2 separate regions of the Homo sapiens genome follow, and region 2 is linked to region 1. Evidence: fine-mapped expression QTL. A gene starts in region 1. The other region holds a variant in brackets. All regions are shown on one strand. Distances are between the middles of the regions.

Region 1 (15,903 bases):
AGACTGGGGCTCCCTGAGTCAGGGCTGTCTCCCCCCTCAGACTGGGGCTCCCTGAGTCAGGGCTGTCTCCCCCCTCAGACTGGGGCTCCCTGAGTCAGAGCTGCGTCTTCCCTCAGACTGGGGCACCCTGAGGACCGGATTGTGTCTCCCCTCAGACTGGGGCTCCCTGAGTCAGGGCTGTCTCCCGCCTCAGACTGGGGCTCCCTGAGTACAGGGCTGTGTCTCCCTCAGACTGGGGCTCCCTGAGGATGGGACTGCGTCTCTCCTCGGACTGGGGTTCCCTGTGGACAGGGCTGTGTCTCCCTCAGACTGAATTCCATGAAGACAGGCACTGTGTCAATCCCATCAAACTAGGTCAGAACTAGATCTCCTTTAGCATCTAAAACAGGCAACTCATCCACCATCCCCAACATCATCTGGGGGTTTTCAGACTGGGTGGGGTGGGGCATCTACTTCCCACCAGGCCACCCTCCTGAGGAAGGACAATCATGCTTACTGGCAGGGGCTTCCTCAGTGAGCAGCCTGTTCCCAGTTCACCCACTCACCCCTCTGGGTGGTCTCTCCCACAGTCTAGCCCCAGTCTCTCACGTTAAATCACCATGGGTAGCTGGGCAGGCGAGACCCACAGGATGTGTGGGCAGGGCCTGCCTGGACCTGGTGGGGGGTGTATAGCTGAGAGCACAGGCATTTTGTAGCATGATCTCATGCCCACTGCCCTCAGCTAGGGGCTCTTCAGGACCATTTGAGCATGGGGAGTGGGCAGACAAGCCTGGGCAGCTATACCAGTGGCCTGAGGAAGCCAAGCTTGGCAGGTTCCTGCTTCCATGAGTCCAAATCAGCACAGGAAGTGGGTCCCAACACCATTAGCTTTCCCTTATCCTATGCTGTAGCCACCTGGATTAGCAGAGGGAGAGGCCTCCTACCCCAGTGGGTCCCTGTGAGGGGGCAGCCCGACCTTACAGTGTATACATTTGGTAGTGAAGGAAGCAGGAAACAGCTGGACAGGCCTGGGAATCCCTCCCCACTCCCTAGTCACCTTTCAATACGAGGAGCTGGGCTTTCCCAGCCCTCTATCCCCTACTCCTCCCTGCCTCCTCTTGACCTCCTGTGCCTTTTTCAGGGAAATAAAACACAGAGCCATGTGGAGATTGGGGCTGGACTTCTGTGCTCTCCTTTTTCCGTTGGCAACCCCATCTCCAGGCTGGCAGGATCAGAGTCGGTGCCTCCCACCTAACACTGACAATTGGGCATTGCCATGGCTGAGGGCACCCTAAGATATCAACCCCATTACACAGATGGGCAGACTGAAGTCTGAGGCTGTCACAGAGTCAGGACAGATCATGTCTTGGAGGTGATGCAGCCAGGCTTGTGGTCAATACCCACTCTGCCTGAGTCAGGGTAGCTCCTCTCTCGGCCAGACTGTGAGCTCCCTGAGCTCAGGGACTGGTCCCCAGCTTCCTGAAAGGGGTTTGCTGGGTAGGATTGAATGAGGGCTTGCTATGTACTGACCTGTGCTGGTCCTGGGGTGGGGTTCTGTGTCCCCATCAGCCTAGCCAGTTTAGCTGCAGGGCCTCCTCACCTCTGGACCCTTCCTTGACCACAGGTCTCCCTAGTTAGTTCCTGGAACCCAGACTTTCGGTGCCTGGGGAGGGAGGGTCTAGGGTGGCATGGGCAGCTGTGCATCCAGGCCAGAATGGGCCACCTGGAGAAGTCCCCAGGGCCTGGTGCAGGAGCCCGCTCCCCCAGCTGGCAGAAGGACAGGTGGAAGCCCACCTGCTGTCCCCCGCTTCTGGGTCACAGTCAGTTGGCTGAGCTAGGCCCAGCTTGGGCAGGTTCTCCCACATCCAGTGCCCCCTCCCCCTCACCCCACCCTGGCCTGATCCCTTTTTCAAGTACAGTCTTTGCTCCAGCCAGATGTCTGAGCACAGTCTTGTTCCCAAGAAACCCATGCCCTGCCCCACAATCTCTACTCATCCTGCCCTCTCTCCCTCCTGTCCCCATAGGAGCCATCTCCCCAGGGCCACTGGCTCACCACACTTCCTGCAGAGCTTTGACCCTCTAGGAGAGCAAGCCCCTCCCCAGGCCAGGGAAGGGTCTCAGCAGAGGCAGCAGGGAAGGGGCAAGGATCCAGCTTCCCCAGTAACCTAGCATGCCTCTGTCTTCCAGCAAGTCACCAAACCACTCTCCTATCTGTCCCTATTGTCAGCCTATCCCATCCCTCAAGGCAGCAAGTTCTTAGGTTGGCTTCCCACTGTGTGGGCAAACACGCGGCCTCACTCTTACTGGAAGCCAAGACTTGCTCCAACTGGGCTCGGCAGGAGAGAGTTCTCAAGAAGCCCAACCCTCAAATACATACTCTGTAACCTAGATGGAGGCTCTCACAGAACCTGCCAGAGGCAATCACTAACCCTGCTTTACACACCTAAAGGTAGCTTTTTAAACTTTAAAAAATTTGTGATAAAATACGCAGAACATTTACCATTTTAACCACATTTAAGTGTACATTTCAGTGGCATTAAATACATTCACATTACATACGTTCACATTACATATGTTCACATTGTTGTGCAACCATCAACACCATCCATCTCCAGAATTCTTTTCATTTTACAAAACAGAAACTCTGCTCATTGAACACTAACTCCCCATCTCTCCAGCCCCTGGCAACCACCATTCTACTTTCTGTCTCTATGAATCTAACTACCTTAGTTACCTCATTAAAGTGGAATTATACAATATTTGTCCTTTTGTGATTTGCTGATTTCACTTAGCACAATGTCCTTAAAGTTCATCCCTGTTACAGCATGTGTCACAATTTTCTTCCTTTTTAAGGCTTAATAATATTCCATTGTATGTATGTACCACATTTTCTTTCTCCATTTGGGTAGCTTTTTTTATTTATTAACTACTTTTTTTTTTTTTTTTTTGAGACGGAGTCTCGCTCTGTCACCCGGGCTGGAGCACAGTGGCTTGATCCCGGCTTACTGCAACCTCCGCTACCCAGGTTCAAGCGATTCTCCTGCCTCAGTCTCCAGAGTTAACTACTTTTTAAAAAAACCAAAGTAATATATTCTCGTGGCAAAAAGTCTGAACAGTTCAGAAACACATAAAGTGAAAAGTGGACTTTTCCATCCCTTCTCACTCTGGTCATGGAAAGCCCTTTCTGGTGACTCTGAAATTTTAGAGGCAGAAGGGCTAACTGGTTTTTATCCATTTTTTACACATATAGTGACATACTCCTCATCAGTACTTCTCAAACACGAGTATGCATCAGAATCATACAGAGAACATGTTAAAACCACAGACTGCTGGGCTCCAGCCCTAGTGTTTCTGATCCCGTAGTTCTACGGTGGCCCAAGATTCCAGGTTTCTTTTTTGTTTGTTTTTTCAGACAGGGTCTCTCTCTGTCACCTGGGCTGGAGTGCAGTGGCACCATCTTGGCTCCCTGAAACCTCCACCTCTCAGGCTCAAGCGATCCTCCTGCCTCAGCATCCCTAGTAGCTGGGACTACAGGCTAATTTTTTGTAGAGAGGTTTTGCCATGCTGCCCAGGCTGGTCTTGAACTCCTGGGCTCAAGCAATCCTTCTGCCTTGGCCTCCCAAAGTGCTGGGATTACAGGCATGAGCCACTGCAACTGGCTGAAGATTCTGGATTTCTAATAGGCTCCATGCCCATGCTGGCAGAGGGCACACCCTTCATGGAGTAGCACCACCCAAGGAATGTCTTGCCACTTGCTTTTCTACTTAGTGAATATCAACACACAACCTCAACCTCACTCTTTTCAACCACTGCATACTATTGGTGTTTGGAGGCATCATAACATATCCAATCCGTGCCCTATTAATGGACTTAATGTTGCTTCCAGTTTTTCAGGTTTGGAAGCAAAACTGCAATGAACACACTTGTATGTATACTTTGAACACTTGTGACATTTATAACAGTGCATCTGATAAATTCCTAGATATGGAACCCTCGAGTCCATGGTTTGTGAATTAATTCTTCTCATGTATACTGCCAATCCCCTTCACAGGTGCAACTGTCCTCCCCCCCAGCTCTGAGGATGTCTGTGTCCACACAGTGAGGGGTTGCCCATTTTAGTTGTTGTCAATCAAATTGGCGAAAAGAGAATCTTCTCATGTCTTCATTTTGATTTCTTCTATTTTGACTGAGGGTGAGCATTTTCACCTGCTTGTTAACCATTAGTATCCCCTTACCGGTTTATGTGCTTTGCCCATTTTTCTATTCGTTTTTATTTTCCTTATTGACTTGTAAAAACTCATCGGTCATCTATGTTAAAAATATTTTTTCCAGACGGTTGTCTTTAGAATTCAGGATATTACATTAAAAACACATTTTTTTTTCAGAGATGGAGTCTCACTGTGGTGCCCAGGCTGGCCTCAAATTCCTGGGCTCAAGTTATCCTCCCACCTCAGCCTCCCAAGGAGCTGGGACTACAGGCATGTAACACAACACCCTACGTCATATTTTAATACAGCCAATTTTAAAAAATTCTTTCCCTTTGTGACTCCTAGGTTTTGTGTCAAACTTTCCCCAATCCAAGAACATACACTTTTAGACTTTCAGATGTTTTCTTCTAGTAATTTTATGGTTTCCTTTTTACATTTAAATCTTCACTCCATCGGGATTTATTTCAGAATAAGAGATGAAGTGGGGAGCTGGATTTCTTTTTTTTCCCCCTTAACAGCTAACCAGTTGTCCAATTTGATTGAATAATTCATCTTTTCTCCTCTGATCTAAAATGTCATTTTATCATATATTTAATTTCCATTTGTTCACGGGTGTGTGTCTGGCCTCTACTCTGCTCCTTTGATCTGCCTGTCTGTTCTTGTGCCAGTACCCAACTATTTTATTATTGGAGCTTTCTACAACATTTTAGTAGCACTAGTCGTCCCTTATAATACTTCTTTTTCAGGATTTTCCAAGCTCTTTTTGCATGTTTATTTCTCCAGATGAACTTTAATATAATTTGTCAAGTTCAAAAGATCTCGTTGTTTTTCACATCTTCCAACAGATGTGATTTTCGGACATCTCAGCCCACAGCCAAACAGAAACAAGTTGAGAATAGGGTGGGTTTGGTGGTCTGCCCTGGAGGCAGGCAAAGTGATGGTAACAGAAGTGATAGTTTATACGGAGAGAGTTGATGAAGTGATAAAGTACTATAAAAGTAGACACAAGAACTACGAAAATGTAGCCTTCATGGAATGAGCCGTTGGTGTGGGGCCAAAAAAGGCCTTGGATTTTCACTGTATTACAACCAGGATACTGATGGACCCTTGTAACCACAACCCTGAGTCATGAAGACTCACATGTTCTGTAACCTCTGATTAAAAGCCCGGAAAGCGTGTAATATCCACTAGTGATTCCTATCCAAAATATCTCTTTTTAAGGTTTCAGATATTAATGTCTGGAAAACTAGTATGAAATGGTTCATTCTTGGATGGTGACATAAACATGACATGTTACTGGCCTCTTTACAGTTTTCTCAAAGCCCACCTTCAAATTCCAAGGAGCTGCCAGCTCCGGGATTTGAATTCACTCTATCCATGGAAACAAAGCTGAGGGAAATGTCCCCAGACTTTCAGCCAGTTCAAACACAATAATAAAAAAAGGTTTACCTCATACATGCCTCCAACATATGAGGCATGTTATAGGCAGATTATATTTTAATCCTCAACAGCCCCGCTGGGTGAATGCTGTACTCCCATTACACAGAAAACTGAGGCTCAGAGGGGTCAAACAACTGGGGCCAGTTTAAGTTAGTACGTGACAAAGAGCTCTCAGCTACCTCCACCTGCACATTCCACAGACCAGTCCCCTTCAGTTCACTCCCACAGGGAGGTTCAAAACACCACCGACCCTATTCAGACATCCCTTTGCAAGGCCCTGTCACCTGTCTTGCCCAATGCCCACCTAGCCAGGAGAGCCAGGATGCACAGTGAGGAAGGTGGAATGAGGTGCCAACGTAGCCCATCCAGGGAAGGAAGACAGCCCCCCCCCCCCGGCCACCCACTTGCCAGTGGCCCAGGTGGCAGGCCAGCCACTTGCCAATCCCCTTCCTGATCAGGGATTCAGGAAGTGAAGAGAGTGCCCCTGGAAGTCAGGAGACACCTCCAAGATGAAGGCCCTGCCTGCCATAGCCTGACACAGCCTCCCTGTACTCCCTGGGTTGTCCCAGGACGCAGACTCTGTGCTTACCATACCACACCTTTGTCAGTGGTGTGGGCAGGGCCCAGCAGAGTCCTGGACACCCCAGGGAGTAGGAGCTGTGCAGGTAACATAGGAGGGGGTGAAAGGGAAATGAACTCCCTTGGGAGTTCCCCATCCCAGAGGAAATAAAAGTCAAAGCACTCCTTTGTTTTTTCTTCCCAAGCCCTTATAAGGGGCTTTATGGGGCTTGCCTAGGTTTGAGGTGCAGCAGAGGCAGGCGGGTGAGGGCCTCCAGGCTGAGAGATCCTGGGGCAAAAGTGAAACTATATGGTCATGAACACGGGCATGTTCTGAACTCTGTGAAACCCTAGCCCAGGACCTGGCTGACTGTACAATCCGTCACCCGGCACACCGTAACAGAAGACCCTACTACGCGCAGAGGACAGTACTATTGGGGTGGCAACTGAAAAGGGTCCTGGCTGGAGGCGGGGTTTGCTGGAGGGGTAACAGAGCGTGCGCGGAGTGGAGAGGGTACGGAGGCTCACCGCCCAGCATCCCCAACCCCGGCGCTCAGAAGAGCAGCGCGCTCCGGAGCTCGGCGCGCGCGATCAAAGCCGGCGCCGCACGCGCACGCGCGCCCGCAGCCGCTCCCCCGCCCGCGCCGCTCCGGCTCCCGCGCGCGCGCACTTGAGGCCTCCCTTGTGCGTCTCCTCCATTCGCTACGTGCAGAATGGTCCGTCGGCAGCAGCTGCAGCGCTGGGTGGGAGGGGGAGGAGGAGGGGAGGGGGAGGCGGCGCCCAGGTCTCGGGGAGGGGCCGCGGCGGCCCTGGAGATAGAGGGGTGGGGGCGAAGGGGTGGGCCCCCGCAGCGGGGAGGACAGAGGGAGAGTCCGGGTGGGCTCGATGCTCAGCCTTCCCCCTCCCCCGCTCCCGCTTCTTTCTGCGAGGCCATTACGGCCATCTCCCGGCCTGAGCCTCCTGGAACCAAGCCGACCAAGAGGGGTTTCCTCCGTGTTGTCTCGTCCCCAAAACCCAGAATCCAGACCCAAGAAAGAACCACTCCTGCTGACCCCTCCTCCCGCTACCCGTCCCAACCGCATTCCCAAGCTTTCGTGGAGGTGACCCAACAGCAAGCACTTCCCCACTCCGCCTTTCATGGGGTGGGGTCCCTAAGAGGTACTGCAGACTAACTCCTCTTTTCATCTCTTACCCCACCTGGAGGAAGAGGCATGGCCAGGATGGACACCAGAGCACATTTCCCAGCATTTCCAAGGGGAAAGGGCAGCATCTCAGCATGCAGACTCCAACATGGCCACAGAAAGGTCGAGTGGCGCAGAGGAGCAGGCTGCTGCCCAGGCCCCTAGGGCCACTTCCAAAGGAGTGTGACCACGACTAGGTTGCTGTGGACTCACTCGCATTACAGGGCTGCGCCCTATACACCTGTTTGTAAAGGGTCCTCCTAGAATGTAATGGTGAGGGACCACCAAGCGGTGGACCAAGAATTCCAAACAGACCAGCTCCCTGCCTTGCCAGGAAACCAGATGTGGCCCAGATGTCCATAGCAGTTCCTCCCACAGGGTGGGACACCAGCTATTCTGTGCAACCCCTCCCAACCCTTCTTCCAGGGTCAGGGAGGAAAGCTGGCAACCTCCGTTGTCCCTTCCCATTTGGGTTGCTAGAAGGGAGCAACTCACTCATCCTCCTCTTCCTGCCAAGAGCCACCTGGGCTTACCTCTCCAGCAGCCACCTAGGTTCAACCTGTGGTCTAACCTCAAGCCCTCTGCTGACAGGTTAAGTCAAGATCGCCGGGAAGGAAGGCGTCCAGTTTCATTACACACACAGACGTACACACACACCCGACACCGACCCACGCGCCTGGGCTCTGCACAGTGGCTAGACCCCAAAAAGCCGATTCTCCTGTTCCCTCCGTGGTGGCCTCAGTCTTTTGGCGGCGCCCTCTGCTGGCCACTAGGAAGTGCAGGAAAAAACAGTCTGCCCATAGACGCTTGGTGGATCTGGGAAAGGGGACAAGAGGCAGAGAAACAAGTGAAAAGTGGGAGCTGAGAGCAGCGCTGGGCTGGCCACAAACAAGCGAGGCATGGTGACGCCTTCCTGGAGGTGGGGAGTTTTGAGCCAGCTTTCCATGGGCCTAGGGAGACAAGCCGAGCTGGCAGATAGGGGCTCAGGACACCCCAGGAGTGGCCCTTCCTGTGTGCTGAGCCCTACCCCTGTCCTGGATGGCTCATACACCCACTAACTCATATGGCTGCTGTGCCCTGCTTGGGAGTCCTTCCTGTCAGCCTCTATTGGGGTGGTGGGTGGGGAGGAGCAGCCATGGAAACCCTGATCCTTCTAGTCATAGTCTGGCTCCCTGGGGCTGTGAGAGGTGTCCCCAAAGAGAAGCCTCCAATTGACAAACCTCTGCTCCACCCCACCCCACATACACAGAGGATGGCCCAAGCCCAGGTCCCTGGCATGGTGGGGCAGGGGCCTGAGTCACAGCCTGGCGTGACCCTGCCCAGTCCCCAGGAATGGCCAGCTCGTCCAGAGGTGAGACCCAGGTCAACAATCCATCAGTCTGCCTCCTGCCACCAGGTATCCTCCCCATCACGTCCTACACGTGGGGTGGGCCAGGACAGTGCTGGGCAGAGCTAGTGTTGGGCCTGTGCCTGGGGGCCACCAAGGGGGCCCGGAGAAAAGAATGGAGGGGTTTTCACTTCCTGAGCAGCAGGAGGAGCCAGCTGGGGTTAAAGACAGGAGGGACTGGTTGGGCCTACAGGCATTTGGAGTCTCTCCCTGCCTGCTGGGTGAGGGAGGCAGCAGGTGCCAAGAACTGCTAGCTTCTAGGACCTGACCCTCAAGTTGCTTCTCCTGCTGAGGGGCTTCTAGGGTCACCCTCAGGGCCTTGACATCTGCACACATCTGCACAGGCCCTTCACCAGGGACTTAACCTCCAAAGGCAGCTCCTGCTCCCAGCCTTCACAGGCCCCCCTAGGGCCCAAGTCCCCAGACCCAACCTCAGTCTGCAAGCTGGCCAAGTCAGAGGTCCTGGCTGCCTGGACCACTCCCAAGCAGTAAATGGCACTGTGGGCTTCCTCCATCCTGTCTTCCCCGCCCCACTTCATTGATTCACTGACTTCCAACTTACTGGTCAGGCCCCCTTCCAGACCCTGCCTGGATGAAGAGGACTCCCAGAAGCAGTGATTGAAGGCCTAGGAGGATACAGAGAGCCAGGTGCTTTAATTGGAGGTAATTAGTTAATTTACTCTGAAAGCAATGGGGCAGGGCGGGGACAGGGGGAGGAGAGGGGAGGGGAGGAGGTAGGGGGCTGTGACCTAACTGGGCTCAAACTCTCAAACTCTGGTCAGCCTCCTTCTGGACCACAGCAAACCTGTGTGTACCCACCCACTTAGGAGACCCTCTCCTGGGCCCCAGGTCAGAGCAAGACCCAAAGTGGACTAGGGTGGCTCTGCAGAAAAAGCAGGTGCCCTGGGGTGGTGGGAACAGGCCTTTTGAGGTTAGGGAGGTGTGGACTGGCATGAGGGAATTGGAGAGGTGCAAGGAGCTCTGGGATGGGAACTGGTCCCTCTCCTGTCACGTATAATTCCATCCCTCCCAAGGTCATTGCTGTCACCCAAGTTAGGGGCCCAGCCCCCTCCTTTGGTCAGTGAAGTCCCAGGGCAGCCCATTTTAAATACAACGGGGCCTGAAGGCTAACTTCTGGCCTTCCTGCTTCGGGAAATCATTCCAATAACCGGGAAAAAAGGGGGCCCGAGGACAGAGCCCCTGCCGGGCCCCAGGGGGAGTGTCGTCGGCTCCTTTGCGTCGCCGGCCGGCGGCGTGGCGGGGACTCTGGCCGGCAGCCTCCCGCGCCGTCCGGAGCAGCTGACCCGCTGGCGGTGGGCCAGGTCGCGGCGGGGCCTGGAGGCAGCAACGTGCGGCGCGGCATGTCGCGGGCGCCGCGGCAGGGAAATGTGGGGGCGGGCCGGCGCGCCCCCTCCCCCCCGCCTACGCTGGCCCATTCATAAAACCTGCAGGCGCTGCCCGGCCTGGCAGCCTTGGTCTCCTAATTGCAAACTCATTAAGGAGTTTGCATCTCATTTGCATGGAAATCATTTCCTGGCCCTAAACAGAGAAACTTCCCGCCCCTCCACCAGCCCCTCTCTGCCCTGCTTTACCCATGCACAGTCTGGGAGAGGAGAGGGGGCATATCTCTGACCTGCGCCCCTTCCCTGGCCTCACCACCACCCTCCCACTTTAGGAGTTGGGGAAGGGATTGGCAGAACACCCACCCAGCCAGGAGCCCTGCCTGTGCCCCAGGTGAGCCGGCCCTGCCCTAGTGGGTCCAACTGAGGGGAGGTGCCTGCCAAGTCATTTGCCCCCCGGCCTGGCCGTGCCCAGGGAAGGGAGGAGGCGGTCGGCAGTTGGCCCCAGCAGCTGGTTGTACCTGGCAGGAGGTGGGTGAGGCTTTTCGTGCCCAGCCTCACGTACGTGCCCTGCCATAGGCCGTGCCCCCACCCCCACACCCCTCACCCCACAGAACAAGCGCCTAGTGACTGCAGAAACAGACACCCAGTCATGGCACACAAAGGCACCCACACCAGGCCAGCCATCATGGCTGCCCCCCTGGCAGCCACCCTGGAGGGCAGACAGATGCCTTCACAAGCCATTTTGTCTTTCTCCAGCTTGGTGCCAGGACTGGGGGTGGGGGAAAGGGTTTCTCCTGAGACTTCTCTGAGTAAGGGGGCCCACAGAGGGGTTTCCTTATGTACCCCAGCTGTGGCCTCTTGCCCCCTCTCTCCTGTAACCCATGTTTACAGAGGCCTCCAAGTGCTCTACCCTGCATGGGGACCTGCCCAGGCGAGGGGGTCACAGGAGCCTCCAACCCAGGAGGGGAAGTGAGAGATAAAGCCCCTAAGGAAGGGACACCTAAGTGCCTCCCCAACCAGGGTCTGTCCTTCGTGTCCCAAGTGTGTGTAGTGGAGGGAGTGCTCCCCAGTTTCCTGGGGGTTGAGGTGGGGCGGTATTCTAAACCTTTGGAAATGGAATAGAACTACCTAAAGTATATGAAATTAGATACTACTTGGGACACTATGTCTTGGTTCTGTATGTCCTGGGACAGTGTAAAAAGTGATCACAAAATTTTCAACATCACAGTCTAAAATAAAAACCTGCCTCTTGTCTGCCTCCTCAGACATAAACCTGCTTACGCTTCCCATCTGCCCACACTCCCACCTGCTGTATCTGAAGTTTCTCCCTTCCTTTGCTAGGGCATAAAGGGGTGGGCAAGGATGTTCTGGAACACTGACCACACATCCGTCCTGAGTATGGCTGGACTGACCCTACCCTCCCAGCTCCTGGAGCAGTTGGGTTCCAAGTGCCATATGTGTGCGTGGTTCAGGGGTACTGGAAGAAAGTTTTAGAATGCCTATTTATTTTTCATCGAATCCTTTTTTCATTTAGTGTGAGTGTGTTTTACAAGGTAAACTATATAAAAACATACTCATCTGACGGGTGCGTACTCAACAATCTTTTTTATTGCTAAGGGCACATGATCAAAAAAACTTCGGAGGTCACTGGCCTAGACTTCAGGTGGGGCAGCTGTGGGCAGGGGATGGCTTGTCTTGTCCATCTAAGTATCCAGCCTGACACATGACTAGTTCAGAGCCTGGCAGGGAGCAGAGGTCAGGGACACAGTATTGAATGAATGAAGTCCACCCCTAGAACTGACAGATGAGGAAACTGAAATAATTCTGGGGCGGGGAGATTGCTCAGAGGAGGACATGGGCAGGTTGAGAGAGTCTCCCCTCATTGCTGCTATGTCTGCAGCCTGCCCGTGTCCAACACCCAGCACCCACACAAACCTTACTTCTACCCACCCCAGGGAGCACAGCTCCCTCCTCTGCCTACCAGCAGAGTGGCCACCTGTCTTGAGCTTCTTACTGGATCCTGATTAGCAGAGCCAGACAGGGTTGTCACCTGCCATATCCCTCTACGTGGCAGAAAGTCTGTTGCCAGCTTTGTATCCTAGAACTCTCTGGAAGTCAATCTGGTGTAGGAGAAAGAATTTAGGCTCCAGACAGGCGTCAGTCCTCATCCAGCTTGGTGACCTTGGGCACAACACATAACTGGTATAAGCCTCAGTTTCCCAATCTGTATCTTGGGACCAATATTTGTACTTACTGTACAGAGTTGTTGTGAATGTTGAGTAGCCCACTGTGTGTGTAGGCTCTGGCATATACTAGGTGTTCAGTAAGATTCCTGTCCCTCTGTGTGCAGCAGGTGCCCCATGAAGAATCTGTTGAATTGTGATTTGACATCAGCATGGGAAGGAGAATTCCGAAGGCAGACAAATGAGCCTTTGCTCCCTCCTCTGCCTGCTGGCACGGTGCCCACCAGTCTGAGTTCTGTCCTGCACCTTCCTGCAGAAATGAAGCAGCCACTCTGGCAGCCTTGGGTCCCCTCCAGGCTCATCCACTCTGTGGTGGGGTGTCCTCCTCCTTTTCTCCCTTACAGCTCCTTTCCCTTTTTCTGTGCTGCCTTCACTTCAAGCATGAGCTGAGGGTGACTCCTGGTGGCCATTCATATAACTGCAGAATCCTGACCATTGTCACCGCCACCTGGAAGTGCATGAAGTCGAGTGTGCAAGGAAGCCATTCTTCACACTTTCCCTACACCTCCCAACTCCCTGTCAGGGCCCTGGGGAGCCTCAGGGGTGGCCACTCCCCGGGGACTCCACCCTCCGAAGTTCCACCTCTAAGGGCTTCACTTGCCTGATGGGTGGGGACGATCAAGGAGGCCTCTGCCCAGATCCTGCAGCACCAGGCCTGCCCCAGGCAAAAAGCAGGACAGTGGCTACTCTTCCCTCAAGTGCCACTGAACACTTTGCAGGCATCATTTTGTCCAATTCTTATCACTGGAGCCCATTATCACAAAGAAGAAACCAAGGTTAAGCAACTTGCCAAGGGTCACACAGCTCCTCAGTGCCCAAATGGTGAAATGAATACAGGTGACACTCAGTGGGACACCAGACCAGCCCCTGGGGGACAGAAGAGGCCTATAGGAAGGAGCCTGCCATGGGGTTAGAAGCCTCAGATTCTGACCCGACCTTGCCCCAACTAGTGGGGTGGCCTCCATCAAGGGCCTCTGCTCACTGAGCCTCAGCCTCCTCGATGGCATCATGGGGCGGAGGACAGAGCAGGATTCTCAGATTGGCTGTACATGGGAATCACTGGGAGGATTTTTCAAATACCCATGTTTGCCCAGCCCTGACTAAGGAAATCAAAATTGGTAGGGGTTGGCTAAGACAAAGGTAATTTTAAGAAAATATTTCTAGGTGATTCTATAGGCAGCCAGGGTTGAGAATGGGTCCTCTAGGAGTTCCCCATCTTCAGACTTCCCAGCCCTCTAGAGGTCAGCTCCCCAGGGCTCCCCTCTGTCCTAAGGGCTCTCCAGATAAACTTTTTTTTTTTTTTGAGACGGAGTCTCGCTCTGTTGCCCAGGCTGGAGTGCAGTAGCGCAATCTCAGCTCACTGCAAGCTCCGCCTCCCGGGTTCACGCCATTCTCCTCCCTCAGCCTCCTGAGTAGCTGAGACTACAGGTGCCTGCCACCACACGTGGCTAATTTTTTTTGTTTTTTTTTAGTAGAGGCGGGGTCTCACCGTGTTAGCCAGGATGGTCTCAATCTCTTGACCTCATGATCCGCCTGCCTCAGCCTTCCAAAGTGCTGGGATTACAGGCGTGAGCCACCGCACCCGGCCCAGAGAAACTATCTTAGCTTGTCTACCCAGACCCACAAGAAGCTGCCTCCCAACCACCCAAGGGGACACAGGCCCATCAACCCTTTCCAGAGGGGGCACAGTAGGCTTGAGACTCTTGAGTCTCTGACCCCCAGCCTGGCCTCTGGGGTGGGGGGAGAGAAAGTCATAGGGAGCTTAACCTCAACAGGATGAAGGCGCCATAATTAGGGTCAGGCGGTTGGCTCAGCCTGCGGAAATCCCCAGCTTAGTAGGGATGGGGAGTGGCACTGCAGCCTGCGGGAGGGTTCAGGGCAGAAGTGAGGGGGCAGGGGGAGCCCAGGCACATGGAAACCCAGGACCTAGGCCCCAATTGCATCCTGAGAGGGCCCACTGGGGGCTTCTCAACACAGTTCACTCCCTCCCTGGGGTTGCTGAACCCCAGGGAGGGAGGGAAAGGCTGACCAGCCCCCCAACCCCAGAGACCCTACTGCTCCCTCAGGCTGGGGTGCATCAGGATCATCCCCCTACCCCAGCCTTTGTCAGGAGGAGGAGGGCACCGGTGGGAAAAGGCTACGTGAGTGTTCCCAGGGCGACCCAGGCTTTTCTCCTGACTGTAATCCTCAGGCCTTGAGAGAGGGATCGCTTTCCACTGTGGAATGTAACAAAGGGGACAAAATGGGGCAGGGGAGGGGGGCAGAAGCCAGGGAGGGAAGCTTGCAGGGTGGTACTTTTAGCCCCCAAAAGGCCCTCCAGGAGGCAGCTGCACAGAGAGAACCCCCCTGCCCCCATGACTCCCTGAGCCTGTCATCCAGCTCACCCCAGGGCACAGGGTCTCATCCTGGGTTGTCCAGGTGTCCCCCCGCAGACTCCTGCCATGAATCCCAGTGCAGGGGGATTTGGATGATCACCTTTGCCAGCCACTCATTTTGCAGGGGAGGAAATATTCCAAGAGATGAAAACTAGCCAAGACCACGCAGCACCAGAACCACTCCCAGAAGCCCCGGCTTCCCCAGAGACTGCTTCAGTGAGCCGGCAAAAACTGAAGCCTGCAGCCTCAGGAGTTCCCACACACACCTAGGCCAGAATCCCTCTGCCCCGCAGCAGGACACCCCTCCCTCTTGCCCTCCAGGGTCATGGGCTAGACATGGCAAGGTAAGCAGAAGGCAGATGCATACTAGTCCACACAAGCTTGTGACGGCTGGGACTAGGGGCCAACCTAGTGGCTCCCACGTTGAGAATCAACGCCAATTCCAGGAAGCCTTCCCGGCTAACCCCCAAAAAGCTGGCAATACTTCCCTCCCACAACACAGCCTTGGCTCTCGAAGGCTGTCCTCTCCCCCAGCCTCACTCTGACTCATCATGTAGGTCCCGCATGGGCCTCAGTTCTCCTGGCCATGGGCTCTCCCCATACCTTAACCTGGGAACCGTTGTGGGCAGGACCATGTGGGACAAAAAGGTCCTGTGCCCAACCCAGCACCAATCACAGGGAGGCCTGGGGATAAGCAGGGGCTCTTGGAAAGGGGGCAGAACTCAGCTCAAGTCACAGAACCTGGGAAGGACCTTCAGTGGAAAGCCGCTTCAAATGTCATCTGGGATGAGCATGGTGGCTCACACCTGTCGTCTCAACACTTTGGTGAAACTGAGGCTGGAGGATTGCTCAAGGCCAGGAGTCGAAGACCAGCCTGGGCAACATAGCAAAACCTTGTCTCTCTGTGTATTTTTTTAATATTAAAAAAAAAAAATTTAAGGTCATCTGGTCCAGTCCCTCGTGCCTCCCAGTTGGGAGGCACTGAACTTCTCAACACTGCAGAAACAGGCATCTCTTCATATATTTAGTCATTCAGTCATCCATCCAATGAACCTTGCCCAACTATCTTCTACATCTCCGCAGCCCAGGCAACCCAATCCATTCTCAAGGCACAGACTAAATCCTTACCAAATAGAGTCAAGGGTCCATCCATTTCCTCTCCTGGGCCTAACATGGTGCTAAGTGGAAG
Region 2 (15,903 bases), 63 kb before region 1:
AGCCAGGCCCGAAGGCCAGAATTAAAGGGGTAGCTTGGCCATCAGCTCCTTCCCCCAAAACCAGGCTCAGAGCTCTCCTCTATCAGCAATTCTTTCCTGAGGTCCAGGGTGTTGCAAACTCATGGCCTTGGGCCACGTTTTACCTTCAGTGAGGTTTTGTTTGGCTTGCAATGAGTACATGGGTTTTAGGTTGAATGTGAGAGTCTGCAGACAATGTGGGTTCTCCGACTGCCCTCCCAGTGAAGGTGGACCTCTGATTTAGACCGGCCCGCTGGGCCCGTGCCTACATCCTTTTCCTCAGCGTCAGGATCTTAGTCCCCATGATTGCTGCCCCTTTGTGGTCTGCATGTTTCTTGGTAAGGGTGCCCAGTCAAGTGTCTCTGGGAGCCCCCTCTTCTCTGTCATCGTCAGGCTCCCCACTTGCAGTGGCCGTGGTGGCTGCACATGCTCCCGGATACCCCTCCAGCACTCCCTTTTGTCATCTTGAGTTTCAGTCCGTGACTTGGGTGGCACCCTATCTTCTCCATCAGGGATGGTAGCTATTTTTCTGCCATGAGACTAGAGGTTGCTTGAGAACAGGAAATTGGATCTCTCCCTTCAGGCTGGGATTTCACTAAGGGCTGGAGAAGGGGGGAATATGGGAGGATTATCTCCTATCACAGGGAGCGCTCTGAGGGCAAGGCTGTGTCTCCGATTCAGACTGACGGTTCCCTGAGGATGGGGCTGTTTCTCCCCTCCGACTGGGGCTCCCTGAGGATGGGGCTGTTTCTCCCCTCCGACTGGGGCTCCCTGAGGACAGGGCTGTGTCTCCCCTCAGCCTGGGGCTCCCTGAGTCAGGGCTGTGTCTCCCCTCAGACTGGGGCTCCCTGAGGACGGGGCTGTGTCTGCCTCAGACTGGGAATCCCTGAAGATGGGGCCGTGTCTCCCTCAAAGTGGGGCTCCCTCAGGACAGCGTTGTGTCTCCCCTCAGACTGCGGCTCCCTGAGGACGGGGCTGTGTCTCCCTCAGACTGGGGCTCCCTGAAGAAAGGGCTGCTTCTCCCTCAGACTGGAGCTCCCTGAAGATGGGGCTGTGTCCCCCTCAGACTGGGGCTGCCTGAGGATGAGGCTGCATCTCCCCTCAGACTGGAGCTCCCTGAGGGCAGGGCTGTCTCCCCCCTTCAGACTGGGGCCTCCCCCAAAGGACAGGGACTGTGTCTCCCCTGGGACTAGGTTCTTTGTGTCTTCTGCATCAGACAGATTCCCATGAGGACAGGGCTGTCTCCCCCTCCATCTGGAGCTCCCTGAAGGCAATGGCCTCTCCCCTCAAATGGGACATTTGCACCCCACCCCACCCTCTGGCTCCCCATGGCGCCCAGGCATTCCTCCCAGGACACCATTTGTCACGCTTTGATGAATGAAACTTACTAAGAATAACTCAGTCCTTGTAGACTCTAAAGGACAGGGGGAGGGAGAGGGAGGAGGCTGGTGATTGTGGGGGTGCTGGGGGAGGGAGGACACAATCCATTTATTCAATAGCATTTCCTGAGTCCCCAGCTGGGCACTGGGGGAGACACAGTGAGTGCCACAGAGCCCCCTACTGTGCCATTTCTGCCACTGACTGCCAGGGCAGACTCTGAGACAGAAAGTTCAGGTTCCTGCTTCAGAGCCTCCCCACCCCAGCAGTCATTACCTCAGGGCCACCCAGCCCCCTCCATGCCAGTCATGAGCTCCCTCTGCCCCTCCCTTCAGTGGAGGGGAGACTTTGAAATCAGGTGCTTGGGGGGGGGGCGCTGCTCCCAGTGGGGGTGTGAGGAACCTGGAGGATGAATCCCTGTCCCCCGCCCTCCCCCTACTCTATTCTTCCTTACCCTGCCCCTTTCCACTCCAAAACCTCAAGCCTCTGGTTCACATCTGAGTGACCTTTCCAAAGCAACTGTTCTCAGGGGGTCCTTGGGAGCCGGGAGGCTGTGACCTTAACCCACTTCTTTGGACAGTGCCTTCCTGGCACTCCACCCCCACCTGCCACCTCCTGAGAGGAACATTTCGGCTGGTCTTGGCAAAAACATCAGTCTATGATCCAGGCAGCCTGGTACAGTACCAGCTCTGCCACTGACACCACTGTGACCTTGGGAAGCCATTTACACATATGGGTCTCAGTTTCTCCATATGTAAAATGACTTTTGTTTAGCTTTCCTGATTTTCAAACCTTTTTTTCAAACAGTGAATCCTCTTGTTTAAATTGTAAATCATGTGGCATCTCTGTTCTCTGTGGTAACATAGGAAAAAGGTCGGGGGTTCTTTGGTCAAAATAGGGGTGGGCTTCATGCCCCAGCGGTTAGTCCATGACACACGAATGCACACATACGTGTGCGCACAGATCAGCTCCTGGGCACTGCAGAGTCCACTTCACAAACGTATGAACTCTGAAATCCTTTCCTGCTCAAACATTCTGGGACCCTGACAGGACCGGGAGCTCTAGAACCAGGGGTGCCGACAGCTCTAAGGAGGAGGCTGTGATTTCAGACCCCTGGGCCTGGGGCTGGGGCTTGAGCCAGCAGGAGTTCCTTTCCACACTTGGGTCCAAAGTCACTGCCTGGGCAAACCCTCACTGCTCTCTGCCCTCCCCACCCATCCAAGCCAGAGGTCAGATAGGCTTATCTGATGCTGAGCCCCCTTAGAGGGGTGGCGGGGGCCAAGTGGAGACAGAGTGTCCTTCATCAGTGGGGAGGGGCAGCAGGTTGGGTGGCAGGCTCTGGGAGTTCTTCTCTGGAATCCCTCTCACATGCCTCGGAGGAGGGTCAGAGTGGTAGGGTGGGAGGGCCAGCAGGGCCCTGCAGTGGCTGAGGGCTGGGGGCTGACCCCAGGAAGCCCAAGGCGGGCAGCATAGGTAGGGGAGACTCAGGGAGCTGCACCACTCCATCCACAAGTGTGAGAATTTGATACCAACAGGGAACGCAGGTAGGACAGGGCCCATCAGACACTGATGACAGGAAGGCAAGAGTGAAGAGAGGAGCAAGTACAGCCCAGGGAAGAAAAAAGTCACCAATAAGAGGCAGGCCTAGGCCTGGGCTCCCAGCTTGGGGCAGCAGAGCAGATCCCTTCAAGGGAGAAACCACAGATATGCCCCAGCCTCTCCTTGATGCTGTGAGTCAGGGGTGCTTAGAAAGGCTCGTGTTCAGTTCCAAATGCCCAGGGTCACCACGAAGGAGGTGCTGCCCCCTCCCCTGCACCCCAAGCAACCTGCATCTGCATGGCCCTGGAGAGGCCATTGCTCCTGATTTCCCTCAGGAAACATGGCCAGGGAGCTGCTGTGAGAGTTTTCCCCGAGTCCCCACCTCCCTGAGATGTACAATGAGGGAAGGGAAGAGGTATCTCACCGACTTCTGCCCTTCCATCTCAAACAAAGACACACACACACTCTCTCTCTCTCTCTCTCTCTCTCTCTCTCTGTCTCTCTGTCTCTCTCTCTTTCTGGCATTTGTCCCCAGAGAGTGCCTAGAGACTTCACAGCCTTGGCCCTGGAAACCCCTAGACAGCCGCTATGTTGCCAGGCACGGCTCTGGGCACTGAGGCTACAGCAATGAAAAAATCAGCCAAGTTCTCTGCCTTCATGGTGCTCACATTCTAGGCAGAGAAAGACAGATGATCAACAAGTGAAAAAATCATAAAGCTCAGGTCATGGTGTGGCAAGTATTAGAGTGGAGAGCGATGGGGTGGGGTGGGGGCGCTGTTTTATATGGGGTGGTCCAAAAATATCTTGGTGAGGTGGTGACATTTGAGTGGAAACCTGGACAGCAAGAAGCTAGTCGTGCTTTGGGGTCAAAAGGACTCCAAAATTTCAGTTTTTTAAATGGAAAACATGTGTTTACCCATAAACATTAAAGAGCAGGGAAATTAGAACTATGTTTCTGGAGCACCTATTATATGTCTAGCACCATGATGGAAAATTCATAGACATCATTTCCCACCGCCCTCTTCAGAACCCTGTGTGTCACATAGCATTGTTTTCATTTTACAGATATCAAATGAGAAATCCATAGAGATTATTTCACGCATTTAATAAGATTTATTGAGTATTCACCTCTGAAAACACTGTAATAAATCCCATACGGACCCTGCCCTCCTAGAGCCTACAGTCTGTGACAGCGAGGAGAACGGTCAGGGAGGGCTTCCTGGAGAAGCCCATGTCTAAACTGAGCCCGAAAGGATGAGGAGGGGGTGACAATTGAAGTGAGTTGGCGGGGCCCGAATTTTAGGCAGAAGGAGCAGCCTGCACAAAGGCCTGGAGCCTGGAGCACACGGCTCCCTGCAGTTACAGCAGGGAAGTGAGAGTCGTGCAGGATGGCCCAGCCTGGAGCGGGAGTGGGGCAAGCTAAGGCTGGGGGGTTGGCTGGGGCTGGGCAAGAGGGGCAGGGTAGGTCTGGACTTCCTTCATGGGAGACCATGCTACGAAAGGGTTATAAACAGAGAAGTAGCAGGGCCAGGTGTCTCTTTAAAAGGCTTCCTGTGGGGGCTGAGGCAAGGAGTGGGCTGGGGGCTGGGAGAGGGGGTGTGGCACCAGCAGCAGTGAGACTGGTGGGCAGAAGTAAAGGACTGAGGAGGGGGTCCTGGCCAGGTTCCTGAGGAGGCTGGGGTGGTGAGTAGGACCCTGCAGGCAGGGCGGATGAGCCACTTGGTGTGGCTGTTAGGCAGGGCAGGTGAGTGGAGCCCTAGCCAGAGCTCTGATGACCTGGCTACCTCCAAGTGACAGGGTTACCAATGGCAAAAGGTGGATGCCAGCCAACAGCGAGGCCTATCAGGCAATTCCTACAGGCTCACGCATTGTACCCACATGTACACACAGGTGTGTGCACACCACACAGACACACAAATACACATGCATCTGGCCCCACTCCCCCATCTGTATTGATAATGGGCTGGGAAGGGGCACGGGAGCCGGGGCAGAGATCACAGAACAGCAGCACCTTGCTTAGCTCAAGCCTCAGGCCCTGTGCACCTCTTTCTGGAGCCCCAGGGCAGATGCCATTCCATAGCTCGGGCCTGTAAGTGCCCCAACTCCTCATATTCCCTGAGAACCTGCTTGTAGGTACCTAATCTAGGATAAGCAGACTCCCTCCTGGTCACATTAACAGGGAATGCATCCCTGAGCTTCACAGCCAGCAGCAGAATCCAGACTCGGACAGACCCTGATGGGTGGAGGGAATAGGCCATACCAGAGAGATGAGCATTCACAGGACCAGCGCGAGGACTCGAACTCAAGGTGAGACACTCAACAGCTCAAACACAGTCTGGGGGAGGCCACACGTAAGAACAATTTGTGTGAACATTACTGGGAGGAGCCTTGCCCCTCAGGGAGCAATGAGCGTGCAGACTTGGGCTGCACTAATGGGAGGGCTGAGTCCAACCAGAGAGGGGCTGCTCCCTGGGCACCAAGCTGGCCAGGCCCTCCTGGAGCAGTGGGTCCAGACCTGGGGACCTCCTCAAGGGGACAGTGACAAAAAGAGTGACAGGGTGGGGAGGAGTCCAGAAACCCCATCATCTAAGGAAGCGCCACAGGGGTGTTTCACCCCAAGAAAGAAAGCCCTTTCTGTGGATGCTATCCCACTTTTACATGCTCTACCTGATGCCTCGCCCTGGTCTTGGGGTTGCACTTAATAGAGGCAGCTTTGCAGGTACCCATTTGGTTGATCTGTGGTGCCTCCCTAACTAGGCTGTAAGTAGCATGAGGTCAAGGGCTGTATATGCTTTTTACCATTGTTTTCCTGGTGCCTGTCCCATACTGGAAGCTCAATAACTGTCTATACATGGAAAGAAGAAGGAAAGAGGGAAGGAAGAAAAAGGAAGGAAGGAAGGGAGGAAGGGAGGAAGGGAAGAGGGAGGAAGGGAGGTAGGAAGGAGGGAGGAGGGAAGGAGGGAAGGAGGGAGGGAGAAAGGGAGGGAGGAAGGGAGAAGGGAAGGAGGGAGGAAAGTGGGGAGGTAGGAAGGGAGGGAGGGCGGAGGGGAGGGGAAGGGAAAGGGAAGGGGGGAAGAAAGGAAGAAAGAGAGTTGAGCATGCCTTGAATGCTCTGAAGGCTGCCATGCAAAGAAGGGTTAAACTGGTTCTCCAGGAGCAGAAGAAATGCCAGCAGAAGGTGAACTCAGGGAGTCAGTTTTTAAATCACCGACAGTAGGAAATCTTAAAAGTCAGATGGTCACAATGTCGATTGGATGATCCCAAAGGACTACGAGCTTCTCAGGAATGAGTTTAAGCAGAAGCAAAAGTAGCGCTTCACAGAGGTGCTGTTGCTTCAATGAAGGAACCAATGAATGGTGAGTGAAT[T/TAATG]AATGAATGAATGAAACTACCACTGAATACTACAGAGAATTTCACATGCTGGACAGAAGACTGGAGACCTCTGACGTTTGTCTCAGAAGTGAGTCTGTGAGACTGGCGCTATGCCAGACCCCAGGTAGGCAACGAGCCATGGGCCCTGTCCTCAAAGAGCCCAGTGAGAGATGCACGCAGCACACGCACAGAGGCAGAAAACACACTTTGAATCTCTCTAGCAACCCCAGACAGGTCATGCTGGAAGACATTCATAGCAGTGCAAGGAGAAGCGTCTTGAGAGAAGCTCAGCCCTGACTCCGCTCCCCATACCTTCTCAGCTTTCTCAAGGAGGTAACTTTCTAGAACCCCCTTTGGGCCACTTTCCCAGGGGTGACCCTTTGGCACACGTCTGTCCTGAGGTCGTGGCCTGTCTGGCAGCCTCCTCCTCAGGGTTAGGAGTGGGGTTGGCACCTGGCCATCCTGCAGAGGGCAGGGGTAGGTGCTTCAACAGCCCCAGCTCTGGGACATGTGCAGGTGCCCTAGTTCCAAGCCCCCACTGGCAGGTTCAGAAGACTGAGACACATGGCCAGGCCCTGACCCCTTGCCTGCAAGCTTCCTAAGAGCAGGGATCATCTCTTACCTGCCTCGGTCTCTCAGTGCTGGCACAGCATGGCTACTCAGTGTATGTGAGCTGAGTGGCAGAGTGCCAGGGCTGGCAGAGCTGCCATGAAAAGGGGTGCTGTGCTCAGGGAGATGGAGATGGGGTGCCTTCCTAGTAGGGTGCAGTAGCACTAGGCAGGGACTAGGAAGAGCATGCAAGTCCCCTGGGCCCCCTAAGGCCAGCACCGGGTCAGACTTGTCTTCTCTCCATGTTCAGGGTCTGCCCTGTCTCCAGCAGCCCCACTGTGGCTGGTGACCTGTCAGTGACTCACAGCCAGCTGTGGGCACAGAGTGGAGAAAGTGGCCTCCAGCTGAGCTCATGCACTAGCAATTAGCCCTCTACACCTCCTCACCATGGAGAGCCTCCCAGCTTCCACGCACGCACGTCCCAGGCTGCCCTTTCCCAACCGCAGCGTGGCTCTTGTGCTTATTTTAGCCTGATGAAGCCTCTTGAAATGTCAGAGCTGCAACCAACCAAGCTAGGGACCATCCAGTTGAATCCTTTCATTCAACCAGGGAGAAAATGGGGATTCAGAGAGGGAGTGAGAGATGCGCTTCAGGTCACACAGCTAATTGGTTGTGCAGCCAGAAATGAACTGCAGGCTTCCGGAGCCCAGATCCAGCTGTCCTTAACTCTAGGGGGCAATGTGCTTCAGGTAGCCCCTCACCAGACTTCTGGAGCCACTGGAGCCAGCACACATGTGTTTGAATCCTTCTTGGCCACTTGTCAGCTGTGAGACTATGGGCAAGTTACTCAGCATCTCCAGGCTTCTGTTTCTCCACCTGTAAAATGAGGATAACAGAGGCATGTCCCTCCCAGGTTGGTGTGAGGAATGAATGAGTTCATATATCTGAACTGCTAAAAGCAGTGCCAAGCACATAGCACACACTCAAAACACATTAGCTGACATTGTGTAGTCACCAAGACTTGGTCTCTGGTGTGGAAAGTTTAAAAATTCAGTTTTATGTGTTTGTCCATGGGTGAGCAGATTCTGGGACACCAGCCATATAACCAGACTTCTGGAAAACTGGTGGTGCTACTGTGGGGACAGGTGTTGCTGTCAGAAAGATCCACAGTAGACACAGAAACTGCCTTCCACTTTGGCAGTCACCATCTGAGACCCACAGATTGCAGACATCGAGGCAAAGGCAGTTTGGAGATTCTCAGGGCTATTCAAGCTCGGTGAGCCTGAAGAAGTGCCCTTCTGAACTCAAGAACTGGGCCTCTGTTTGTTAATCTGAAAAATAGGGGAAATCATAGCCTTGGGCTCACTGGGTGGTTGCAGGCATTAGATCAGGTGGGACAGTACCTGAAATAATCCTTTCTAGCCTTCCTCCTCCCTCTTTCTTTGTCACGACCCCCATCATCTGCTTGAGGCCAGTTCTCTCGATTCAGAGCTGCCTCCCCACTGGGCCCAGTTGGATAAACACTGACAAATTCTTCCCCTTCCAAGTTCCTCTTTTCCCAGTCACCAAATCTCTGATACCTCACACCAGATGAGTTATGGTCCCAGAACATGTACAAGATTGGGGTGTTCTCATTCCAACCCTGGAGATCCTTGTTGAATGGATGACTCAGTGAATCAACAACTGCAACGATTCCCAGAACTTCCTGAAAACTCACTCTGAGCTCTTAACATTGGGCAACACTCTGGTTTCCCCCAGAGCCCCACCACAAACCACCTCTGAGGAGAGGCGGCTCTGCAGTTGCCTCATCACTCTTTGCTGCCCTTCATCATGCTCATTTACACGAGAACTTTCTCTGCCCTTACTTCTCCACCACCCAGTCTGGACAACCAGGTGTGTTTGCATTCTCCCCTGCAGGAGGGCAACACAACCGTTCTGCTGTCCATAACCACTGCTGGCATGCCTAGTGGTCAGTCTTGAGCCCTCTCCATCTGCCCAAGTCACAACTGTCCCCCTACCCACCCCACCCAACTTCCTATGATTGCCTGCATAGGACAACTGACTCTTCTTGCTTGCTATTCCAGCTCCACTAATAGCCCATGACCCCCTCTTAGCCCCAGCCAGCCCCACCTGTAGAGTCCTGCTACGAGTGAGCCATTCCTCCCCAGGGGCATCACCTACTCGCTGCATTCTGTTCTTCAGGACAGACTGGAGCTCCCCAGACGAGAAGGCCTAAAGGGCTGGGAGCGGTGGCTCACTCCTGTAATCCCAGCATTTTGGAGGCCAAGGCGGGTGGATCACCTGAGGTCAGGAGTTCAAGACCAGCCTGGCCAACATGGCGAAACCCCGTCTCTACCAAAAAAATACAAAAATTAGCCAGGTGTATTGGTGGCGCCTGTAGTCCCAGCTACTCGGGTGGCTGAGGCGGGAGAATTGCTTGAACCCAGGAGGTGGAGGTTGCAGTGAGCCGAGATCACGCCACTGTACTCCAGCCTGGGCGACACAGCGAGACTCCATCTCAAAAAAAAGAAGGCCTGAGCCATTTGAGAGTTCATGCCCCTTTGAAGGCTGGGAATCTGAACACTAGTTCTGCCCTCAGGAGCCAGGATATGGCCTGGGCATCATCTCCAGCTTGGTTCCAGCTTATTCCCCACCATTGGCCCGCTGTCCAGCCCTCTGCATGTTTCTGGGCCACCAGTGGTCCCTACACGCCAACCAGAGGATTCCAAGAGTATCTCACCTGGAAGATCCTAAGGAATCACCCAGTCTAGTGGAGATGGTCTCTAGAGTGTTTGAAAATGTTTTGGAGTCTTTTTCATTGTAATAGTGATTAGAGATGTTCTGGCATTGGGTGCCCCAGGCCGGGCATGCTAGATCCCACAATGGACAAGGCAGTTTGCATAGTGAAGCATTGCACCCCTATTCTCCTTGGAGAAACACCACTTCTAGTCCAAAGTACTTCTTGTACAGTTGTAGAAACTAAGAGCCAGGGAGGATAAGGTACTGGCCCAAGACTAAGCAGCAAATTTGTCTCATAGGTATTCTAATAATGAGGATCCAAGAGTTCTGTTTCTTGGTGATTTCAATGGTATCTAGCCTCAAAATCCACTAGCAGTCACCAAGTTTGGGGCATGATGGGAGAGATGAAGACTAACGTGAGTCATTGGGAAGACTTTGTAGAGGTGTCATTTGGGCTAAGCTTTGAAGGATGACTTGTGGACCTGTCACTCTCGAAAGTGGGAGAGGGCACAACAGACAAAATGGTCAATAGTGGGGAAAGGACTAGAGCCTAGGAGTGAAGGTGGCTGAGGAATGAGCACAGGCTTTGGAAAGGAGAGCAGTGGAAGATGGAGGATGAAAGGAAGGTGACCTGAGGCTAGATCACAGAGGACTTTGCGTGTCAAATTGAGTATTGGGGTTGGTTCCAGGACCCCTGCGGATACCAAAATCTTGGAATGCTAAAGTTCCTTATATATAATAATGTAGTATTTGCATATAACCTATGCACATCCTCCTATACACTTTAAATCATCTCTAGATTACTTATAATATCTAATACAATGTAAATGCCATATCAATAGTTATTATGCTGTACTGTTTTTATTTGTATTATTCTTATTTTGCATTATTTTTTGTTGTTTTTTCCTCAAATATTTTTGATTTCCAGTTGGTTGAATCTACAGATATGAAACCCACAGATATAGAGGGCCAGCTGTATTTTGAGGCCAAGTTATCAGGTGCATACAAATGTAGAATTATTACATCTTCATGGAAAATTGAACATTATATCATTGTGAAATGTCTGTATATCTAGCAATGCTCTTTGCTTTAAAATCTGTTTAGTCTGATTTTAACATAGCTGCACTAGCTTTTTGTTTTTGTTAGTGTTACATGTTTTATCTTTGACTTTTACTTTATCTCTATATTTCAGGTACATCTATGTACAGGGTGTAGCTGGATTTGGATTCTTTTTTCTTTTTATGAGACAGGGTCTTACTCTGTTGCCCAGGCTGAAGTGCAATGGCATGATCACACCTCTCTACATGCTCACTGCTCACAACAGGCATGCATCACCACGCCCAGATAATTTTTGTATTTTTTGTAGAGATGGGTTTTCTCTATGTTGCCCAGGCTGGTCTGTAGCTCCTGGGCTCAAGTGATCCTCTCACCTTGGCCTCCCAAAGTGCTGAGATTATAGGCATGAGCCACTGTGCCAGATTTGGGTTCTTATCCAAAATAAGTCTGAAAATCCTTGCCTTTTAATGGGAAAAAATAGTCATTTTATATACGATGGAATTACTGTTTATTTGGACTTAAACCAATACTAAGTGCTATGTGTGCTACTTACCTATGCTCCTTTTTCTCTCCTTTCTTTGCCTTCTGTTGGAATTATTTTATTTAATTATCCCCCTTTTAAAATGTGGAAGTTATTCACTTTTTTATAATTTTTTAGTAGCCACCCAGAGATTACAGCATGCCTTTTTAACAAATCCTAATGTTAATAGATTCTTTTACTCTCCCCAAAATAAATGCAAGAACCTTAAAAACCTTAACTCTTCCCAAACACCATTATTATTATTATTTATATGTAGCATATATTTGCTATTTATCCACATGTATACCATTTTCATTGCTCTTTATTCTTTCTTGTATCTCTATTCTTCCATTTAGAATTATTTTATTCTGCCAATAAAATGTCCTATTAATGCAAATCTGCTGGTAATTAATTGTCAGTTTTATTTTTCTAAAAATATATTTCTTTCACCTTCCTTCTTGAATACTTTTTTCTGGGCATTAAATTATAGGCTGCCCATTTTATTTTAGCCCTTGTAACATTTTTATTTATGATAAGAAATGTATATAGTCATGCACCACAAAACAACATATGGTCAATAACATACAACATACTTAACAGCAGTCTCATCAAATTATAATGGAGCTGAAAGTTCCCATTGCCTACTGACATCGCAGCCATCATACGACATAGTGCCTACTGACATTGCAGCCATCATACGTCTTAGTGCAGCATGTTAGTTATGTCTTTGTAGTGATGCTGGTTTAAACAAACCTCCTGTGCTGCCAGTCACATACAAGTATCGCACTTAAAATTATGTACAGTACATATTTGATAATGTTCATAAATGACTGTGATACTGATTTCTGTATTTACTGTACTATACTTTTAATCATTAGAGTATAATCTTCCTACTTACTAAAAAAAAAAGTTAACTGTAAAACAACCTCAGGCAAGTCCTTCAGAGGTATTCTAGAAGAAGGCATTGTCATCAGAAGAGAGGACAGCTCCATGTGTTATCAGCCCTGAAGAACTTCCAGTGGGACAAAGTGTGGAGGTGGAAGACAGTGATATTAATGATCTTGACCCTGTGTAGGCCTAAGCTAATATGTGTGCTTGTGTCTTCATTTTTAACAAAAAACTTGTAAAGGTTAAAAACAATTTTGACAGAAAAAAAGTTACAGAATGAAAGTATTTTAAAAGAAGGTATTTTTGCACAGCTATAAATGTGTTTTTGTTTTAAGCTAAATGTTAATACAAAAGAATCAAAAACTTTTTAAATTAAGTAGCCTATAAAGTTAAAAAGTTACTGTAAACTAAGGTTGATTTATTACAGAGGAAAGAAAATTTTAAAAATAATTTTAGTGTAGCCAAAGTATACAGTGTTTATAAAGTCTACAGTAGTATACAGCAATGTCCTAGGCCTTCACACCTACTCACCATTCACCCGCTGACTCACCCAGAGCAACTTTCAGTCCTTTAAGCTCCATTCATGGTAAGTGCCCCCTGCAAGTGCACCATTTTTTATCTTTTATGTTGCATTTTTACTGTACCTTTTCCATGTTAAGATATGCAAATACTTACCATTGTGTTACGATTGCCTATAATATTCAGCACAGTAACGTGATACAAAGGTTTGTAGCCTAGAACCACATAGCCCAGAATAGTAGGCAATATCATCTATATTTGTGTAAGTACACTCTATGATGTTCACACAATGATGAAATTGCCTAATGATGCATTTCTCAGACACATGACTATATTTGGTCTTCATCCCAGTTTCCTGGCACACAGCTCCTAAAACCTTTGGAATTTCTTAAGTGATAAGTATCTTTTGTAGCTAATGAGATATCTGGTGACTGGGGGCTTCTGGATAGCCTCAGGATGGGGCTGGTTGCCGGGGGAACCAACCATGTGATTAGTCTTGTAATTTTCAGACCCCCGCCCCAACTTCTGGAGAGGAGAGAAAGGCTGAAGGTTGAGTTGATCACCAAAGGCCAATGTCGTGATCAATCATAAAAACCCAAAGGGACTGGATTCAGAGAGCCTCCAGATTGCTGAACACATGGTGGTTCCTAGAAGGTGGTGTGCCTGGAGAGGACATGGAAGTCTACACCCCTTCCCTCATACCTCGCTTTGCGTAGCTCTCCCATCTGGCTGTTCATCTGTATCTTTCAAAATAATTCTTTGTGATAAATTGGCAATAGTAAGTAAAGTGTTACCCTGAGTTCTGTGAGCCTCTCAAGAAATTTAATTGAACCTGAGGAGAGGGGAAACCCCCAATTTATAGCCTGCTAGTCAGAAGCATACCTTGCAACCTGGCACTTGTAATTGTCATCTGAAATGGGAGGCAGTCTTGTGGGACTGTCCTTAGACCTATGTGATCTACATTAACTCCAGTTAGTGTCAGTATTGAATTAAGTTAGTGTCAGTATTGACACTCAATTGGTGCCCACTAGAGAGCTGATTGTTGGTAGGGAGAAATCGCCACATATATGCCAGAAGTGTTCCATGTTGAGAAAAACACTTTGTTCTTTTCCATTTCATATGGGGCTCTAAAGAATTCCATCATATTCTGGCTTCCATTGTTTCCATTAAGAAATTAGCTGCATGACTAATTGTTGCCCCTTTGAAGGTAATCTGTTTATTCATCTAACTATTTTAAAGATCTCCTTAGCTGGGCGCTGTGGCTCAGGCCTGTAATCCCAGCACTTTGGAAGGCTGAGGCGGGTAGATCACTTGAGGTCAGGAGTTTGAGACCAGCCTGGCCAACATGATGAAATCCCATCTCTACTAAAAATACAAAAATCAGCTGAGCATGGTGGTGCATGCCTGTAATCCCAGCTAATTAGGAGGCTGAGGCAGGAGAATTGCTTGAACCCGGGAGGTGGGCAGATCACGAGGTCAAGAGATCGAGACCATCCTGGCCAACATGGTGAAACCCCGTCTCTACTAAAAATACAAAAATTAGCTGGGCATGGTGGCGCATGCCTGTAGTCTCAGCTACTTGGGAGCCTGAAGCAGGAAAATCGCTTGAACCCAGGAGGCGGAGGTTGCAGTGAGCCAAGATCATGTCACTGCACTCCATCCTGGGTGACAGAGACTGTCTCAAAATAAATAAATAAATAAAAATTTTAAAAAATAAAGATCTTATCTTTGATGATCAGGTTTTAGTTTTACTCTGATAGTAAAGGTATACTCTTTAGTTTTACTCTGATAGGCTTAGGTGCCGGTTCCTTTTTATTTCTCTTGCTTTAGGTTATTTGGGCTTAACTGAGTATATGGATTGATATCTTTCATCAGTTTTGGAAAGGTCTCGGCCATTATCCCTTCATATATTGTTTTTGCCCTATTCTCTTTCACATTCTAACTGCTTTCTTTATGTCTTTTAGACTCTCTTCTATATTTTTCATTCTTTCACCTTTCCATGTTTCATTCTGGATATTTTTTTTCTCTTTTTTTGAGATGGAGTCTCACTCTGTCACCCAGGCTGGAGTGCAGTGACATGATCTCGACTCACTGCAACCTCTGCCTCCTGGGTTCAAGCGATTCTCCTGCCTCAGCCTCCCAAGTCGTTGGAACCACAGGAATGCACCACCACACCCAGCTAATTTTTGTATTTTTAGCAGAGACAGGGTTTCACCATGTTGGCCAGGCTGGTCTCAAACTCCTGACCTCAAGTGATCCACCCACCTCGGCCTCCCAAAGTGATGGGATTACAGGCGTGAGCTACTATGTCTGGCCTGGATATTTTTTCTAATCTAGCTTCTAATTCAGTAATTCTTTCTTCAGCTATGTTTCATATACTTTTAAACCTATCCATTGAATCCTTAGTCTTGGGTATTATAATTTTCAGTTCTAGAATTTTAATTTTTTTAACAAAGTTTCAATTCCCTGCCAAAATTCTCAAACCATGTCTATTTCCATCATGTATTTTTATCTCTTTGAACATAATAAGCATTGCTGTTTTTTTAATTATAAAATCTGCATCTGATAATTCCAACATCTAGAACCCCTGCTGTATATGCTTTTATGTTTGTTCATGTTGTCCAGTCTCATGTGTTTGGTTTTTGGTGTTGGTTTTGGTTTGTTGTGTGTATGTGTGTGTTTTATTTGTTTTTTTGTGAGTTGTTTTTGTTTGTGTGTGTGTGTGTGTGTGTGTGTGTGTGTGTGTTCTGGACATTGCAGGTGCAAAGTTGTTTGTAGAAATTATCTGACACCAGGATGACATCTTCTTCCAGAGAGGATTTGCAAGACCCTGAGGGCACTAGCAACATTGGATCGCCTTAATCCAATTTCAGGAATTGAGATGAGTCTAAGCAGAGCGGCAGTCACTGTAAGAACCTGTCTACTTCCAGTTTATCCTTAGTCCTCAGGCACAGCCCTTTGGGGTCTCAATCCAAAGCAAGGAGGTTTACCAAATACTCCTCTTGGTAGGCTTTGTCTCATATCCCCAGATCCTCAAAAGCGCTGATTAACCTTTCAACCTCTCAGTCACTCACTCCCTCCATTCCCAGAGGAAAAGCATTTAAAAGCCAAGCTCAGCCAGGTGCAGTGACTTAAGTCTATAAGCCCAGCAGTTTGGGAGGCTGAGGCAGGAGGATCACTTGGGCCAGGTGTTCCAGACCAGCCTGGGCAACATAGCAAGACCCTATCTCTACAAAAAAAATTTTAATTAGCTGAGTGTGGTGGTGCACACCTGTGACCCCACCTACTCAGGAGGCTGAGGCAAAAGGATTGCTTGAGCTGAGGAGGTTAAG

What was found. PIP is the estimated chance that this variant, and not a neighbour inherited with it, causes the effect. A credible set is the group of variants that fine-mapping cannot tell apart.
Region 2: its variant is the best candidate, but not a certain one, in a credible set for the expression of SCIRT in putamen (GTEx, PIP 0.56).

The regions. Positions count from the first base shown.
Region 1 is chr6:44,066,598-44,082,500 of GRCh38, forward strand. SCIRT (stem cell inhibitory RNA transcript) reads right to left here and starts at 8,055. Exons shown (of 5, transcript NR_125864.1): 1 at 7,900-8,055. RefSeq lists enhancers at 6,466-6,525, 6,566-6,665, 7,686-7,945, 9,066-9,135 and silencers at 6,746-6,825, 6,916-7,175.
Region 2 is chr6:44,003,732-44,019,634 of GRCh38, forward strand. All of the region lies in intron 1 of SCIRT (stem cell inhibitory RNA transcript), which reads right to left. It overlaps LINC03040 (long intergenic non-protein coding RNA 3040), which reads left to right. Exons shown (of 3, transcript NR_160956.1): 3 at 1-3,881. Among named protein-coding and RNA genes, the nearest start is that of LINC03040, 11 kb to the left of the region's middle. RefSeq lists enhancers at 851-1,482, 6,501-7,700 and a silencer at 6,791-6,989. The variant T/TAATG (reference allele first, on the strand shown) is at 6,301.